2 separate regions of the Homo sapiens genome follow, and region 1 is linked to region 2. The links come from fine-mapping of genetic effects on gene expression. A gene starts in region 2. The other region holds a variant in brackets. All regions are shown on one strand. Distances are between the middles of the regions.

Region 1 (9,390 bases), 890 kb before region 2:
GCACTTGAGAGACAGAGGCAGGAGGATCATCTGAGCCCAGGAGTTCGAGACCAGCCTGGGTAACATAGTGAGACGCCAATCTCTACAATACAAATAAAAGTTAAATTAAAATTTAAAAATCTCTGCCGGGCATGGTGACTCACGCCTGTAATCCCAGCACTTTGGGAGGCCAAGGTGGGTGGATCACCTGAGGTCAGGAGTTTGAGACCAGCCTGACCAACATGGAGAAACCCCATCTCTACTAAAAATATAAAATTAGCCAAGCATGGTGGCACATGCCTGTAATCCCAGCTACTCGGGAGGCTGAGGCAGGAGAATCGCTTGAACCTGGGAGGGGAGGTTGTGGCGAGCTGAGATTGTGCCATTGCACTCCAGCCTGGGTAACAAGAGCAAAACTCCATTTCAAAAAAAAAAAAAAAGAAAAATCATTAATACTCCCAACACTACATTTACCATCACTGATGTTTCCCTCTATACATGTATTGCAATATATGTGTTTCAGAATAAGAGCTCATACTCTTATTGATGTTCTATTTTGTTGCTATTCTCCTTATTTGCTATTGTTTTGTTGTTACCTCACACTACTCCCCATTATCAATAGTAATATTGGCTATCAATAGCAATATTGGCAATATACTGTTATGATCTCACTATTCCCCACATCTGATCCTCCTCCCATCAAGCAGTCGCAAAGCCTACCAGGAACTCTCTCATTCCCAAACCAGGCTTTTCCCCTCCAGTGCCTCTAGGGCCAGGCCTTCATCTGATTGGAAGGAGATGGAGGTGGGGCTCAAGCCCCAGGTCCCCAACATCAAGCAAAGACCAACAGCAGCACCCCCGGGTCCTACAGACAAGTGGGACACAGTAGGTAAGCCCAGTTAATGACTTTTTTTTTTGAGACGGAGTTTCACTCTTTGCCCACGCTGGAGTGCAGTGGCGTGATCTCGGCTCACCGCAACCTCCACCTCTTGGGTTCAAGCGATTCTCCCGCCTCAGCCTCCCGAGTAGCTGGGATTACAGGCATGTGCCACCATGCCCAGCTAATTTTGTATTTTTAGTAGAGACAGGGTTTCTCCATGTTGGTCAGGCTGGTCTCGGACTCCAGACCTCAGGTGATCCAGCTGCCTCTGCCTCCCAAAGTGCTGGCATTACAGGCATGAGCCACTGCACCCAGGCTTAATGACTCTTAGTAAACCAGATGAAGCCGGGTGCAGTGGCTCCTGCCTGTAATCCCAACACTTTGGGAGTCCAAGGCAGGAGGACTGGGCATCATAGCAAGACCTCATCTCTACAAAAAATAAAATTAGCCAAGTATGATGGGATAAGCCTGTAGTCCCAGCTACTTGGGAGCCTGAGGCAGGAGTTAGAGGTTGCAGTGAGCTATGATTGGGCCACTGCAGTCCAGTTTGGGTGAACAGAGACCCCGTCTCTAAAACAATGCAGACGGCTGGCTGGATGACAAGGCGGGTGGAGCCTAGGGAGGGTACATAAACTCATTAGACAAAGCTCTCTATTCCCTGGCATTGCTAAAAGCCCCATTCGCCCCTCCATGCTGCTTAATGGTTTCGCCCGGTCTCCCCCTCACCAGTGGGACCACCCACATGCAGGATAGACCCAGGAGATTAAAGTTCAACCGTGACTTCCCCCAGGACTGCGGCTCTAGGTCCCATATCTCTCCCGTTAAAGGCTTTATGATGCCCACCCTAGCTCAGCTAGAGCGGTTATTGCGAGAAACAAGGTGGAAGTGACTCCTTTAAAGCACTATACAAAGTAATTAAATCTTTATTGAGGCATTTATGTGCCAGAAACTGATCACACACAGACATAAGGCACGGTCCCTGCCCTCGAGGAGCTCACAGTCTAGTAAGGAAGACATATGGGGAACCGATTCCCCAAAGATGCGGGGAGTAGGGGAGGCAGTGCTTAGAGTGGGGAGCCATTGTCCCACCCACCCCACGCTCCAAAGTCCAGGCTGGCTAGGAGAAAGTGAGTAGGAAGCTTAGCATCCTCTCTCTCACCTTCCCCGTGACAGCTGACTTCTCTCACTCTGTCCTAACATCACAAGAGGACAAGCGGAGAGACAAGGATGAGAAGGATACAGGAGCTGTCCTCAAAAAGCTAGAACACCCCTGGCAGAATATATACAACGGTATTTTATTTCCCAAAGCCGCAAACCAGCGCAGCAGAAGCTGGGGATACTGGGGAATGTTGGAAAAACAGGGGCTGGGCCAGCCCAGTCCAGTGGTGGGAACAGGAAGTGATGAGAAGAGGGGTACCCAGGGCCAGAGAAGTAGGTGAGAGGGAAATTTCCAGGTGGAGAAGCTCACAGTAGGACACCAGCAGCCACGGCCAACAGAAGGGCTGCCAATCCAGCTGTGGGAGCCACACAGCCTTTATTATGGGGCTGCTGGGGCCCCCCTTTTGCAGGATACTGCCCTGAATTGCTGCGGTCCTGGTGGCCAGCGGCGCCTCCAGTCAACCTGGGCTCCTCATCCCGGGAGGCCTCGTGTTCTACTCCCTGTCTCGGAGTCTGACTGGTTGGCGCTGGCATGGGTTTGGTGGTGGATGTGGGTCTCACTGGGGCCGAGGTAGAAGTGGTGACAGATGTGGTTGAGGCCACAGTCGTGGGCTCTGGAGGGGGCAGCCGGACAAGGGGTGGGATTCGAGGGGAGAAGTAGGTCTTGTTGCGGAGGTCAGAGTTACAGCGGGACCCCTGGCAACAGGAGCCACTGAGCGTGAACCCTGGGCCTGTTACTCCATCCCGAGTGCAGAATTCATCCTGGACACAGCCCCGGACAGGCAAGGACACAGTCACATTAGCTGCAGGAAGGAGACACAGATAGGTCAGTGGCTGGAGGGAGAGAGGTTGACATGGCCAGAACAAAACTTAGAGGCATCAGACAAGAACAGAGAACCTGACCGGGCGTGGTGGCTCACGCCTGTAATCCCAGCACTTTGGGAAGCCGAGGCAGGTGGATCACTGGGCAACAGAGTGAGACTCTGTCTTGCAAAAAAAAAAAAGAACAGAGAACCCCCAAAATGAGACAGAAAGTCTCTGCATCCATTAATCCCAAAATCTCAACTCAGGTCCTACTATGAGAAACAGACAGACTCACTGTCTTTGGCACATGGTGGATTAACATTTTCCATTGTGCTTTGAATGGAAATGTGTGTAGGCTGAACCAAAAGTAGGGTTTAAAACAAAGGCTTAGACTGAGATACAAGACCTCTCACAAGACCACAGTGCAGAACAAACTTCCTCTACAACCCTCTCACCATTATCCCCTTAGCCTTCACCCTGGCTTTTACCTCCCCATCAGAATTTACTCTTAGAGTCAGAGTTACATCTCCACACCAGGCTCAGTGGTTCACGGCTGTAATCCCAGCACTCTGGGAGACCTAGGCAGGGGGATCTCTTAGCCCAAGAGTTCAATACCAGCCTGGGTAACATGGCAAGACCCCACTGTTACCAAAAATAAAAGGAACCAGTCGTGGCGGTGCACCCTGTAGTCCCAGCTACTTGGGAGGCTGAGGCGGGAGGACTGCTTGAGCCCAAGAGGTAGAGGCTGCAGTGAGCTATGATTGCGCCACTACACTCCAGGCTAGGCGATAGAGCAAGATGCTGTCTTTAAAAAAAAATAGTAATAATAAAATAAAAAAGAACTACATCTTCCATAGCATAACTGGCAGGGGATGGGATTTGAAGAACTTCATTTTCCATGGTTACATTTCTCAATAGTCTGGGACAGGCGGGGGACCCCTTGAGTTTTAAGGGCTAAGAACTAGAGATTCCCCGCAGTGCCTGGGCAGAAGCTTAGAGGCTTAAATACCTCTTAAGTACCTGGCAGCCCTCTATGGAAATGCATTTCCCTCCAAAACACTCTGGGACAAAGCATCACTATCCCCACACTATTAATATGTTGGGGGAAGGGACTGCATTTTCCATGATGCCCTACGATACAAGCACCTAGGCCCCACGATTCCCAGAATGCGTCGCAGGTTAAGGAAACGCTTTGGGTAAAGGGCTCCCTACCGCCCAGGGTGCTTCAGAAGGGCTACCACAACTCCCGTAGGTCCCGTGCTCCGGGGCTCCCTCACCTGCCGTCAAGGTGACGTTGCCGTCGAAGCAGCCCTTGTAGACATGATCGCTGGCGTTGTAGCAGCTCACGACCGGCGGCGATGTACCCTGGCACGCCTCCCGGCTCAGGCCCACACAGCTGTAGCACTCCACGCCGTTGGGCGGGTATGCACTCTCATTACCTGCGAGGGGAGCCGAGAGGAAGAAAAGGTGTCGAAAGGGTTCGGGAACCGCAGCTCGTCCTCTAGCCCCGCCCCTAAGGCCTGGCCCCGGCACTATCGATGACCCCGCCTACTAGTAGCCCCGCCCCAGCGCGCAACCTCGCGGCGCCTACAGCCAGAAAGTCCCTCCTGCTGCCTCTTGGCCCCGCCCCAGAGTGTGACCCCACCCCCAGCCCAGGTCGAGTACTCCCGCCTCTGCCACGGCTCCACCTCTATCTTGGCAGGCCCGAATGTGGCTCCGCCCCCGCAGCTACGGCCCGGCCCCCACGGACCTGCCGGGTCGAGCGCCCGCGAGGTGAGGTTGAGCTTGGCGTTGCAGCGATCCTGAGCGCATTGCTGCAGCTGGATGAACGCCAGAAGCCCGTGAAGATCCAGGCCGCGGTCATTCTTGCCGGGGAGTCCCGAACCGCAACCCCGCACTGCCAGCGAGAATTGTCCGTGGACTAGGGAGAGGGACAAGGGCGGGATTAGCTGTGGGCGTGGTCTCAGATGGGGCGTGGCCCAGAGTTGGGTAGGGTCTGGGAGGGGCGGGGCCTCAAATAGGCCAACACCACAGGACCGACAGGCAGGAATTGGCGGATGGACGCCCCCAAAGAGCCGCTCAGAGCGGAAAGAACGACCGAAGCAGGGAGGAGCGGGGTCACGGAACGGGGGCGGAACCTCAAAGAGCTGAGTCGGAGGAGACAGCCTGGTTGACAGGCAGGGATGGGGAGGTCTCATTGGTGGAGCAGAAAAAGTGCATAGGACGTGACCTCGTTCCAAACCCGAGCTCTCCCCGTCCGCCCCACCCAGTTCTCAACTCTCTGCTCCTCGCGCTTGTAATTGTTAATAGAGAAGGCCTGGCCTGCAAGGCTGTGTCGTAGGGTCCCGGCCAGGCTGAAAGGGAGGGGTGGGGCCGCGTTAAAGGGGCGTGGCCAGATCCAGAAAGGACTATAAGGAGGCGGGGCTGGGCCGGAGGAGCCTGCAGTGGTGTGCGTGGCCCGGGGGTCCCCACTCACTGGTCTCCACCGCCCCCACGGCCTCGGTGCAGACGTCCACGCCCGGCGCGCACTTCACTGTCTTCATCTTGTTCGGGGAGCATCCGTCATCTGCTTTCTGCACGCAGCTGTAGCACTCCAGGGCCTGCGCTCCTGGGGGAGCGGAGCCGAATAGACCTGAGCCCTCCTTGCTAAAGCGTCCACCCCCAAGGAGAAATAGTCCTTCCCATGCCCTCTGTCCCGGGATTAGACAGTCTTATTGCACACACTTTTCCAGGGCAG[G/A]AGTAGGGAAAAGCTTTCCACAAATCTGGAAGCACGGGAATCACTGGACCCTTTTCCTTCACACCCACTATGCCAACTGTGGGCACATCCTTCCGACAGCCCTGTATGCCCACTGTAGGCGATCCCCGCCATGAAGCCCCTCATCCCGGGGTAGGAAGGATACCTCCTCACGGTTTTCTGCTCAGAATGAGAGAACTTTTCCCACAGTGTGTGGGAGAACTTTTCCCACAGTAGACTGTGCTCAGTGAGGGATCCCTTCCCACAGCCCCCTTCTGCTCAAATGAGAGAACACTACCCACAGCTTCTCTGCCCAGGACAGGGAACACTTTTTTCTTTTTTTCTTTTTTTCTTTTTTTTTTTTTTGAGACGGAGTCTCGCTCTGTCGCCAGGCTGGAGTGCAGTGGCGCAATCTCGGCTCACTGCAACCTCCCCTCCTGGATTCAAACGATTCTCCTGCCTCAGCCTCCCGAGTAGCTGGGACTACAGGCTCGCGCTACCGCGCCCAGCTAATTTTTGTATTTTTAGTAGAGACAGGGTTTCACCATGTTGGCCAGGCTGGTCTCGATCGTTTGACCTCATGATCCGCCTGCCTCGGCCTCCCAAAGTGCTGAGATTACAGGCATGAACCACCGCGCCCGGCCTAGGAACAGGGGACTTCTTTCTGCAGCTTCAGGATAGGAAAATTTTGCCCACAGCTCCCCTTGTCCGTGGTGGGGAACCCTTCCTACGGCCCATGGTGGAGGACCCTTCCCTCTGCCTCCCTTGCTTAGGATGGGGGAACTTTGCCCACAGTGCCCTCTGCTTATGTGGGGATCCTTCCCACAGCCTTCTCTGTACGGGGCCAGAGGAGCCTCCTCCCTAAGAGCCCCCACTCTACCCCCTCCACCTCTCCGGGCAGCAGACCCACCTCCGCGAAGCAGCAGCAGCAGCAGCCAGCCTGCAGTCCAGATCATGGCCTGGGCACCTGCTTTCCTGGCGGGGTCCATGGCTCCGTCCTGCTCCCTTGGCGTCCCCCCTGGATGTGCCGCCTCCGAGCTCGGGCCCTCTTACCTGAGCCCAGGATGAGTAACCTCGCCCCAGGCAACCCCAGCCTTGCCCAACCGGGCCAACTCAGCGTCGGCTGTGGGGCGGGGCCCCGCCCCTAGGCGCGTCATCCAAGGGAGAGCGGTCCCTGCCCTGTGAAGTTGCCAAGGAGGGAAAGGGTGGGAGCTGAGGTTCCCTGACAGCTCGCGGGAGAAAGTCTGTGTGTGTTTGGAGTGGGAGAGTAGTGGGGCTTAAAGACAGGCTGGGGCTACTCGACATTCAGTGTTCGGTAACTGTTAAATGAGCATCTACAGTGTGCCCGGCTTTGGTCTAGGTAATGCTGGAGATGAAGACAGAACCAGTGCCTGTCCTGGCAGAGCTCACAGTCTGATGGGGGAGACAGATGCTAATCAAATAATCGTACAAATTGGTGTTTACCAAAGAGACTAAGACACTGAAGGAAAAAGTGTAGTGATACAAGGAGATGTGCAGTCTAGAAGTGGGGGCTGGTCGGTGAGGGCTTCCTTGAGGTTATCTGAGATGCAACCTCAAGGGCATGCAGGATGTAGCCAGCTAGAGCAGGTCAAGAGAGGGACACAGCCCTTTACAAGCAGAGGGAACAGCACGTGGGAGCACCTGGAGGTAGGAGGTAGGATGGACCATTCAAACATGGAAAGGAGAGCAGTGCTCCTGAGCTCAGAAGTCCATGAGAGAAGGGCAGGAACTGAGATGAAAGAGTCAGGCAGAGGCCGAGACACTCAGGGCATCAGAGGCCCCGACAAGAGATTTGGATTAATTTTGAGAATAGTAGAGAACCTTTAAGAGGGTCTAAATGAGCTGGAGGACATAATAGATTTGCTTCCTAATATGATCAACCTGAGAAATAGTGCAGCTAGCCATCAAGAAGTAAATGGAGGCCGGGCGCGGTGGCTCATGCCTGTAATCCCAGCAATTTGGGAGGCCGAGCTGGGTGGATCACTTGAGATCAGGAGTTTGAGACCAGCCTGGGCAACATGGCGAAACCTCATCTCTATTAAAAAAAAATAATAAATTTAAAAAAATTAGCCAGGTGCAGTGGCGTGCACCTGCTGTCCCAGCTACTCGGAAGGGTAGGGCAGGAGAATCACTTGAGCCCAGGAGGTGGAGGTTGCAGTGAGCTGAGATCACGCCACTGCACTCCAGCCTGGGCAACAGAGTGAGACCCTGTCTCAAAAAAAAAAATTTAAAAATTTAAAAATTAAAAAAAAGTAAATGGATCTGAGAGTAGGATATATGATTTTAAAAAAGGAAAAAGAAAAAGAAGTGAATGGCAAAAGAGAGTGGTTGGTTCGGCCAATGGAATACTACACAGCAATAGAAAAGATCCAACACCTGATATATGCAGCAACATATCTCAAAAACTTTGTGTTGGGGCCAGGCACAGTGGCTCACACCTGTAATCCCAGCACTTTGAGACACCAAGGTGGGAGGATCACTTGAACCCAGGGGTTTTGAGACCAGGCTGTGCAACATAGTGAGATCCCATCTCATTTTATTTTAAAAAAAGAAAAAACTTGGTGTTGAGTTTAGAAAGCCTTAAACAAACAAACAAAACATACTGTGTAACTGAATATATATGAAGTTTCAGAACAGACAAAACTAACCAGTGGTGATAGAAATCAGAACACATGTTACCTTTGGGAGGGCATGGCCCCAGAAGGAGCAACAGGGAGGAGCCCCCACGATCTTCATCTAGGTGACAGCTGCATGTGTGTACAGATACGTTGAGAATCACTGACTCAGGCCTGTCACTGGACGTATGTTATTCTTCAATAAAAACAAGGTAAAGAATGTCACTGTGGACTCTGTGTAAAAAAGGAAAATGACTCTAGAAGGGGTGAGAGAGAAGGCCAGGAAACCAACAGGGGGCCGTGTAGTTTTCCATGGAAGAAAGAGAAAAACAGCCCCTAACAGCTGGGAGTTGGCCTGACACACATAGTGAGGCCATGGAGTTCAACTGCGCCTAGATAATTTCACAGAGCACCAACCTGGACAAGGCCACACTGCGACAGTAAAGGATCAAGAAACAAATCAATAGCCTGGGCAACACAGCGAAACCTCGTCTCTACTGAAAATACAAAAAATTAGCTGGGCGTGGGGGTGTGCACCTATAATCCCAGCTACTTGAGAGGCTGAGCTGGGAGAATCACCCGAGCCTGGGAGGTTGAGGCTGCAGTGAGCTGAGATTGCGACACTGCACTCCAGCTTGGGCAACCAGAGTGAGACCCTGTCTCAAAAAAACAAAAAACAAAGAAAAACAAAATCAAGACCAATCCATAGCCATGTCTGAACACAGAAACAAACAAGGTCATTGTGCAAACCGCAGAATGACTAAGCATCCCCATATCCTGGCTAATATAAATGACTGCTTATATTATATTAAAGTTACAACTTTAACCTCACTTTATTTCTCCTGCCTCATAAATGAGATTTATGCAAATGCCCAACCACAGCATTACTCCTCCTCTGTTTAACAGTATCCAAACTAGAACGAGGTCCCACTTCCTTGCACCATTCCCAAGACCACCACACACAAGCCCAAATCTTAAAATCAATCCTTTCTGGCCAGGTGCTCACACCTGTAATCCCAGCACTTTGGGAGGCCAAGGGGGTGGATCACCTGAGCTCAAGAGTTCGAGACCAGACTGGCCAATGTGGTGAAACTCCGTCTCTACTAAAAATACAAAAAATTAGCTGGGTGTGGTGGCACACACCTGTAATCCCAGTTCCTGGGGAGTAGGGGCTGAGGCAGGAGAATCGCTGAACCTAG
Region 2 (9,390 bases):
CTATTCAGTTTACCACATCTTTCAACTCATTGATATTCACAATTAAAATCATTTGCTTATGGATTAGTATCAGTATTTCATAGGACCTATTTGTTTAAAAAATTTCTTTTCAAAGATAAAATACATAAAATCTCATTACAAATCAGCATTAACAGATGAACATTTACAGTCAATTTTGATGACAAGGAATAGCAACCTTGAACTTCAATTAAGTTGTACTCAATCATTATATCTTAAATTTTGTCAATTAAAGTTTCCTCTCATTATATAAATACCTAAATAATAGTACTGATATTTCTAGTTAACTGGAAAAACTAAAATATTTACAATCTGGGCCTAAAAAAATAGGTTTGCTGGCTCCTGGACAAAATTAATTCAACCCACAGGCGGTTCTTTGCAAAGATTAGTAAAAATTAAACTCCTGATGAAGAACAAAAGAGAAAAGACACAAATTACCAAAATCAAGAATGAAAGAAGGGATATCACTACGGACTTAACAGGCATTAGAAATATAAATGAATTAACATTAATGAATTCAAAGTGATAGATGAAATGGTTTAATTCCTTCAAAGACACAAAACACAAAATACTGATGTGAGAAATCAAAGAGAAAAATGAAAAAAATCACTCAAAATTCTACATACTGCATTGATTTGTTCACGTGATGTTATGGAAAAGGCAATGGGGTTGGGGAGTGAACCAGGGGTTTCCTGGGGTTAAGAGTTGGGGAAGAGTTTGACTACAAAAAGGTACCACAAGGGGATGTTTCTGGGCGATGGAACTGTTGTGAATCTTGATTGTGGTGGTGAAGTCTACATGACAATGCAATTGTCAAAACTCAGAAATGTACACCAAAAAGAATAAATTTCTACTATAAGTAGATAAGTTAAAAAATAAATGTTAAAAAATTAAATAAGGCTGTTCTACAGGTACTTGTCAAACTTTTAAGTGCACAGCAATCACCAGCTCCAGTAAAAGTGAAGCAGAAAAAGCATTTGACAAAATACAACATCCACTCATGACAGAACTTTTGCAGACTAAAAATATAATGGAACTTATAAAAATGCTTTCCCCTATGATCAGGAACAAGGCAGAGATGTGTACTCTTGACATAACTATTCAACACTGTACTGAAAATCAGCCAGTGTAGTGAGGCAAGGAAAAGAAATAAAAAGCATACAGATTAGAAAGGAAGAAATAAAACTGACCCTATTAATACACAACATGTGTCTCTGTGGAAAATCCCAAGGAATCTACCAAAAAACAAAAATTTCTAGTGAGTATAGCAAAGTCAGAGAATACAAGGTCAATGCACAAAAATCAGGTGTATTTCTATACACTAACAATGTACAACTGGAAACCAAAATTTTAAAACAATATGATTTAAAATAGCTCTAGAAGAATAAATTATATATTATACTCGGGCATATGTCTAAACAAAACATGTATAGATCTGTATGCAGAAAATCATGAAACACTAATGCAAGAAATTAAAGAACACTTAAATGAAGGGACATGTTATATCAATGAACTGGAAAACTCAATGTGATAAAGACGGATCTACTGATTTTACATAATGTCAATGAAAATACCAGCTGAATTTTTGGTAGATATAAATAAGCTGATTCTAAAATGCATATGGAAAGGCAAAGGAACCAGAATAGCTAAAAGCAATTTTGGAAAAAAAGAATAAATTTGGAAGAATCAAACTATCCAGTCTTAAGATTTACTATCAAGCTACAGTAAATATGATATCTTGGTACTGGTGAAGAGATACACACATAGATCAATTTAGCAGAACATGGTACAGAAATAAACCCAAACAAGTGGTGTTGGGATGGTTGGTCATTCATATGTAAAGAAATAAAACCCAACTTAACCATCACATATTATAAAAAAAGTTAAAATGGATCACAGATTTAAGTGTAAAACCATAAAACTTCTAGAACAAGAGAAAATCTTCACGACCTGGGGCTAGGCAGACTTCTTAGATATGACATCAAAAGCACAATCCAAAAAAGATAACATTGATAAATTAGATGTAATTAAAATTAGAAATTTTGTTCTGCAAAAGACACTATTAAGAGAATGAAAAGACAAGCTACAGGCTGAGAAGGAATATTTGCAAATCACACATCCAACAAAGGACTTATATCCAGAATATATAAATAGCTCTCAAAAATCAACAATAGGAAAAATATAACCCAATGTAAAACTGGGCAAAGCATGCATACAGACACTTCCGCAAAGAAGATATAAGGATGGCAAAGAAACAATAACAAAAAAAGAAATATCTGCTGAACACCATTAGCCATTAGGGAAATGTAAATTAAAGTCACAATGCTTAGAATGGCTAAAATAAAAAAAAATAAGGAAAATACTAAGTGCTGATGAAGATGTAAATAAACTGGAACTTTCTACATCATTAGTGAGAATGCAAAATGGTACAGATACTACAGTTTGGCATCTTATAAAGTTAAACATACATTCCCCATATGATCCAGTAACCACACTCCTGGCTTCGTACCCTACAGAAATAAGCACAAAAAAAACTGTACATGAATGTTTATATCAGCTCTATTCATAAATGCCAAAAAGTGGAGGAAAAAGTCTATCAACCAGAGAATAGATAAACTGTGATACATCCATAAAGTGGACACTTCTGTTAACCAGAAGTAAACAGAAATGAAGTATTGATACGTATAACAACTTTGATGAATGTCAAGAGCAATTTGCTGAGTAAAAGAATCCGGTCTCAAATGTTAACATATAGCATCAGTTCATTTATACGACATTCTCAAAAAGACAAAACTATAGCGTTTTAGTGGTTATGGTAGTTGCCAGTGGTTACAGGTATGGTGAGGGGTAATTATGAGGGAAGACATGAGGGGAGTTTTTGGGGTGATGGAACTGTTCTTTTTCTGACTACGGTAGTCGTTATACAAACTATGCCTGTGTTGTAATAGAATTGTATACCAAAAATAACAAAATAGTCAATGTCACTGTAAAAACATTTTTTAAAAACCTGTTTTAAAAACCTGGAAACACAACCTCAGTTATAAGGCATGGTCTATAAATGTTGTTACCATTTCTAACAATTTGTTTCTTAGGAATTTTTTTAGATTATCAAAACATAACCAATCATTGCTCTTCAACTCTTCAATACTCTGAAATAGTTGGTGGATTATATAACCTACCAATATTAAGTGAGATTAAGGAATATATCCAGGGGTTATTTCTATTCTATTTTGATACCTAATTCCAATTCCACACTGCAAATCCTTGATGCCAGCTGTCTGTTGAGTAGCTACTCTAACCATAAACCCTTAACAACCTTGTACGATGTGCTGGGCACATGGAGAAAAGTATGACATGGTCCCAGAAATAGAAGAACTTTCAGTGTATGGATTTAGATAAAGAGAAATAAGAAACAAAGAGCTATAAGACTTAGGCAAGGCAAACTCTATACTGGAACACAAAATTCATCACCATCCTTCTCCAAGGTACAATTCTCTTGCATCCCCTAGCTTCCTCAAGTAAGGACCATTCTGTAAGCTTCAACGAATGAAAACCTTAGAGTAGCTGCTGGCATTTCCCTTTCAAAGTCTTGGATATAAGCAATTTATGATCATCAACGTTTGGCAATTATGACAATCAATCAAACGATATTATACTAAGTCGATGTTAGAGATTTGCTTTAAAATACTGAAACAAAAAAAAAAGGGACAGGGAGTTGATACAAGACTGGCAAATGTTAACAAAGGTTGAAGCTGGGTGACGCTTCCACAGAATTATTTTAGTCATATTACATTTGGCTATGCTTACAAATTTCCATAGTAAAAACTTAAGGGAAAAATAAAAGCTATGAAGCCTATTTGGTTAAACATGGGTGAAAATCCAAAAAGAAGTCTACTGGAAGAGGAAAACATTGAAATATTAATATTGTTACTGTTATATCTTGTGGTTAGCATAATTTTTTTCTTTTACACTTTCTATACTTTCTTAATCTTTTACAATATGCAATAATTTATATAATCAGAATATGAACTATAAATATTTCAAATAAAATTAAATTACAGATAATTTTAAAAAATCAAAAATTCAAAGCTTATTAACCTTGCTTTCACGGTCCTCTAGTAAAATCCAAATATGTGTTCTGAAGCTGATACTAAACACATCAAGAACTAAGGCAATGGATGGAAACTATTTGAATTCAAATCCCAGCTCAGGCTCTTACCACCTGGGTGACCTAAAGATAAACCACCTATGCTCTATGTCTGTTTGCTTATCTTTAAAATGGGAATGGTGGTACCCAACCCAGGCTCAAAGGGCTCTTGTGAGGATTAAAGATGTTAATTCATATCAAACTCTTAGAATGATCAGCACTAAATGTTTAAATACTATCTTTATTACTCATGCCCAAGTACTCCCTCATCCGTTTCTGCATTTATTGAACAAATATCAGCGCATCTTCGAGCAGAATTTGCCAGTGAATGATGGAAATATCGTCTTCCCTGAAAAGAAAGGATGATAAGTACTACTCAGGTGAGACTCCGCTGCCAAGTGCCAAAGGGTCATTCCCTCCTTCTCCCTGCAGCCTTTTTCAAGAAGTCAAGGCTAAAGAAGGAAAGGAGGATGGGGGAAATCAGAACTCCTGCATGAATTACAATGGACTACCCAGACAGCCAGGAGTGATCCTGTCCTAAAGAAAAATCTCTCAGTGATCAGAAAAGGGCCAGGGATACTCTGCAGCTGGAGCTCTGACCCCATCCTGGGTTCACAGAAGCTTTCAGGGAACTGAGTCCTTCTCAGAAAATTAAAAAGTGCTAATAACAAGAGACCCATCTTCTACCACCTGTCAGGCTCTGTTCCAAGTCTTTTTATTTAACTCTCAAAAGAACTCCATTAGATAGATACTAGTACCATTTTAAAGAAAAAGAAACATAGGCAGAGAGATTAAGATACTCGCCTGTTATTATACTGCTAGGAAGTGGCAGAGCTGGTTGATGGTCAGGGGAAAGGGCTGGGGAAGTACAGAACCCAGGAGATCCCCAGTCCCTGCGATGTAGGATCTTGGACCCCCGGCGCTAAGTGGGGATGCGCCAGCTGCCCCACACTGGAGAAGGCTCATTCAAAGATAACACAAATCCCGCCCTTCGCCGCAAGTGGATTATCCTCCCCTAGAGCTACTGCCCGGTTGCTACTGGACCCCAACAAAACGAACATCAGTATGGACGGAAGGAGCAGGAAGCAGGGCGGGGAGCGCTCACCTTTCTGGGAGGAACGAAGGCCGCGGCCTAGCGTACCTGGGGCGGAAGTGGCTCTGCCTACCGAGACCTCCTGGACTACGCTTCCCAGAATTCCCGACGGGATCAGGGAGACGGCCTCAGCCTCCTAGAGCGGAAGTTACCCGACTACACGGGGCTCCCAAACTACATTTCCCAGAATTCCTAGAAAAACTCTCCACTTATCTGCCTGCCTAGGACGCAAGTACCGGGTGCCAAGCTGAGAGCCTGGATGATATTTCACATGTGCCGGTCCCAAAGGAATTCCTTAACTCCCCCTTCCTGGAACCGAAATGCTTCCAAAGACAGAGAGCTCGTATATATATTTCTCTGTTTTACCCAGCGGACCGTGCATGAAAGGCGCCTTTCCTGGCGCGTGTGTCTCTGACCCTGTGGATCTTCTGGACAATTCCCGGAATTTCTTGCAGGGTAGCACTTTCCCTTAAGTCGTCTCTTTCTCGTTTGGATAGTCAGTATTTGTATAGTCACTATTCTCTTTTGGTTAGCCATCCAATTTTATACTGCTAGTCCAGTTCTACTGCCTTCCCCCTAGAGTTTGAATTTATTTTTCTTCAAACGCGACACAAACCCAAATAAACTCAACCAAAGCGGACTTTACCTACCTACCTACCTACTTACCAAGAAAATATCCCATAAAGGAGAGAACAGAGAAGCTTGCAATACAGGAAGAAAAAAGAAAAGAATTACAGAATGGAAGCGATGTGTGCGCTAAAAATGCAGGTACTTAAAGGAAATTGGGCTGATTTGTACTGGACACCGAATTTAAGGAATACAGGATCTCAACCTTTCTTTGACTCGATTACCTTTTTATTCCATTTTGGTGTGGACGCGTCTGAAACTGATAGTGCTGCTGCTACCTACCATAATGTGTTTGTTGCAAGATCCACAAGAACGTGGATGCCAAGAATCCACAAAAAAACAGATGCAACCGTTGATGAGGCCATAAGCAGAAACAGTAAATGGTTCCCACGTTTCCTCTGCTTTAACTACTGATGATGAAATGCAAGTCATAAGGCAAATAGAAGGGCTGTACTGATACAGACAAAATGTTATTATTATGGGAAGGGATAAGTCTCTTGTAAAACCTCGAAATTTTTTTCTTCTTTGAGAAAAATCTATCACCTATTTTCACCCTGCTCTTGATATAGCAAATATTGTAAGTTGTCTTATGGAGGACAGGATGATTCAGGGAGGACGGTGAATGGGTTGACTCAATCCAGAAAAGGAAGAGGAAAATAAAAAGACATAACGACCAATCTGTGAAAATGCTCACGGGGTCAGGAGATCGAGACCATCCTGGCTAACATGGTGAAACCCCGTCTCTACAAAAAATACAAAAAATTAGCCGGGCGTGGTGGCGGGCACCTGTAGTCCCAGCTACTCGGGAGGCTGAGGCAGGAGAATGGCGTGAACCCGGGAGGCGGAGCTTGCAGTGAGCCGAGATCGCACCACTGCACTCCAGCCTGGGCAACAGAGCGAGACTCCGTCTCAAAAGAAAAAAAAAAAGACACTATTAAGAGATGAGACTATTTGATTCTTTATTTAACAACTCCTTTCCAAGGAAATGTTTCTGAAAATACATACGGTTTACATATTAAAGAGGATCAATCTGATAATAGGGGATTTTTTTTTATAAAATGAAAGGAAATTTTAAAAATAAAAGGGACAGAATAATACTTTGTGTACTTCCACTTCCAGTAATAATAAAATGAGTGATTTGGAACAAACATCTGGCAGAGGAAAGATGAGCAAACTTTTTAAATGTCAAAAGGCATCAAAAGACAAGATAATGGAGAAATGGTGGGCCAAAATTCAGAAACACTTGGGAGAGTCATGCATTTGGGGCTACTTTTCTCCTGGGGATGATGGTCTAGTTTAGGATCTGAAAAGCCTAGAAGCTCTGCAGCACTTTTGACACCTATATGAAGCTGGGGGAACAAAAGATTCTAGCAAAAACTAAAATTCGCATCTTTTCAAGTGCACATAAGATTTGCACAAATTAGCAAAATGATACGGGATTTCAAAATACTGAAATACTAAATATGCTTTTGAATACAATGAAATTTGGCTAGAAATCAATAAAAATACAACTAAATGATTCATGTGTGCATTTAATAAATATTGTCTCATCTCCAAACCCACCATTCTTCACTCTGCTTTATGGGGCTGGAATGGGGGAATCTGCAGCCAATCTTTCCCGACCTCCACACCCCCAATCTGGTTCTGTGTTGGGCAATTATTAGCAGAAGCGTATAGGGGTGGTGGGGGCAGGGAGATATACTATATCCTGTGCCTGCCAACCAGCAGTACTTTTTCTTGTAGCAACTGCCTAATTTTCAGTTTTTCTAACACTTGAATAACCTATTTCATCATGGCTCTTTGTAAACATTATTAAACAACTTCCCAAAGACTGATCCTTAGATGTCTAAGTCCTAACACTGCAGGGCCCTGCTTTTGAGCTCAGAGACAGCAGAACCAGCCCAACATTGACCTCTCCTCAGAGGTCTGAGTTTCAGGTGAGCATGACCTTCCTTCAAGCTTCTAAGTTTTAGTAATTCTGGTCTCTTCACTTTGTTTCCTCAGACCTCAGGTGGTTGCTGCTTGCTGCAGTTGCTATTTCCTGCAGTTGCTGCTTCCATCATATATTAGAGTTCTTTTTTTTTTTTTTTTTTTTTTTTTTTTTTGAGAGTCTCGCTCTGTTCCCCGGGCTGAAGTGCAGTGGTGCCATCTCGGTTCACTGCAACCTCTGCCTCTCGGCTTCAAGCAATTCTCCTGCCCCAGCCTCCCGAGTAGCTGGGATTACAGGCATGCGCCACCACGCCCAGCTAATTTTTGTATTATCAGTAGAGATGGGGTTTCACCACATTGGCCAGGCTGGTGTTGAACTCCTGACCTCGTGATCCACCCGCCTCAGCCTCCCAAAGTGCTGGCATTACAGGCGTGAGCCACTGCATGTGGCCTACAGTTCTTTTTCTGCTCTTTCAGAAATCTAGCTACCAACTCTACAATATGCTAATTTTTCTTTTCAAATAATTGATAAGGTTTCTATCTTCTCAGTGGACCCTAAATTACAAACTTGTTTAGAAATTAATCAAACCACTTTTAAGTAATCCATAGATAAAAGACTGTGGCATTGAAATTTGGTGTCATCAGTGAATTCTACCAAATATTTAAAGAAGAAACCATGTTCATCTCAAAATTATTCCTGAGAATAACAAAATAGGAAACACTTTCCAACTAACTTTATGAGGCCACTGTAATAACACTGACAAAATTTGTGAGAGGCTTCATTAGAATGGAAAATGACAGGTCTGGCCAGGCACGGTGGCTCATGCCTGTAATCCCAGCACTTTGTGGGGCTAAGGCAAGCAGATCATGAGATCAGGAGATCCAGACCATTCTGGCTAACACAGTGAAACCCCGTTTCTACTAAAAATACAAAAAAAAAGCCGGGCATGGTGGCACGTGCCTGTATTCCCAGTTATTTGGGAGGCTGAGGTGGGAGAATCGCTTGAACCTGGGAGATGGAGATTGCAGTGAGCTGAGATCGTGCCACTGCACTCCAGCCTGGGTGACAGAGGAGACTCCATCTCAAGAAAAAAAAAAAGAAAAGAAAAAAGAAAGAAAAAGAAAATGACAGGTCTATCTCGTCATAAATATACTTTCAAAAATGCTAAACAAAATGTTGCCAATGATATATAAAAGGGCAACCTAGGTATCAGAGAAAAAAAAAGTTTGATTAATCACCCATTTATCATAAGAAAATTTAGGCAACTAAGCAATAGTAAAGATCTACAAAAATGGCAACAAATATCAAAAGGAATAGTGAAATATTGAAAACATTTCCTCTATGATGGGGAACAAAATAATGATGTCCACCCCAATCATTTCTACTAAATACCACATTTGCTCCTTTATCCTGCAATCTTGCCAACTAATCTAATTAATTTTAATATTTTATGTGTAGATCTTTTGAATTTTATATGCATGCTCATGTTGACTTCAGATCTGCAACAAATGGGGCGCTGCAGCAACATGGGAACAGGGAAAATATTCAATACATGTTGCTGTTAAATTGAGTATT

What was found.
Region 1: its variant is fine-mapped to the expression of ZNF112 in atrial appendage (GTEx, PIP 0.90).

Annotation. Positions count from the first base shown.
Region 1 is chr19:43,459,028-43,468,417 of GRCh38, forward strand. It overlaps LYPD3 (LY6/PLAUR domain containing 3), which reads right to left and starts at 6,581. Exons shown (of 5, transcript NM_014400.3): 1 at 6,466-6,581; 2 at 5,298-5,429; 3 at 4,572-4,742; 4 at 4,099-4,260; 5 at 1,760-2,820. The coding sequence starts at 6,544. The coding sequence ends at 2,324. RefSeq lists enhancers at 4,110-4,169, 4,200-4,249, 4,802-5,333 and a silencer at 4,400-4,559. The variant G/A (reference allele first, on the strand shown) is at 5,559.
Region 2 is chr19:44,351,356-44,360,745 of GRCh38, forward strand. It overlaps ZNF112 (zinc finger protein 112), which reads right to left and starts at 5,325. Exons shown (of 4, transcript NM_013380.4): 1 at 5,271-5,325. RefSeq lists an enhancer at 5,134-5,634.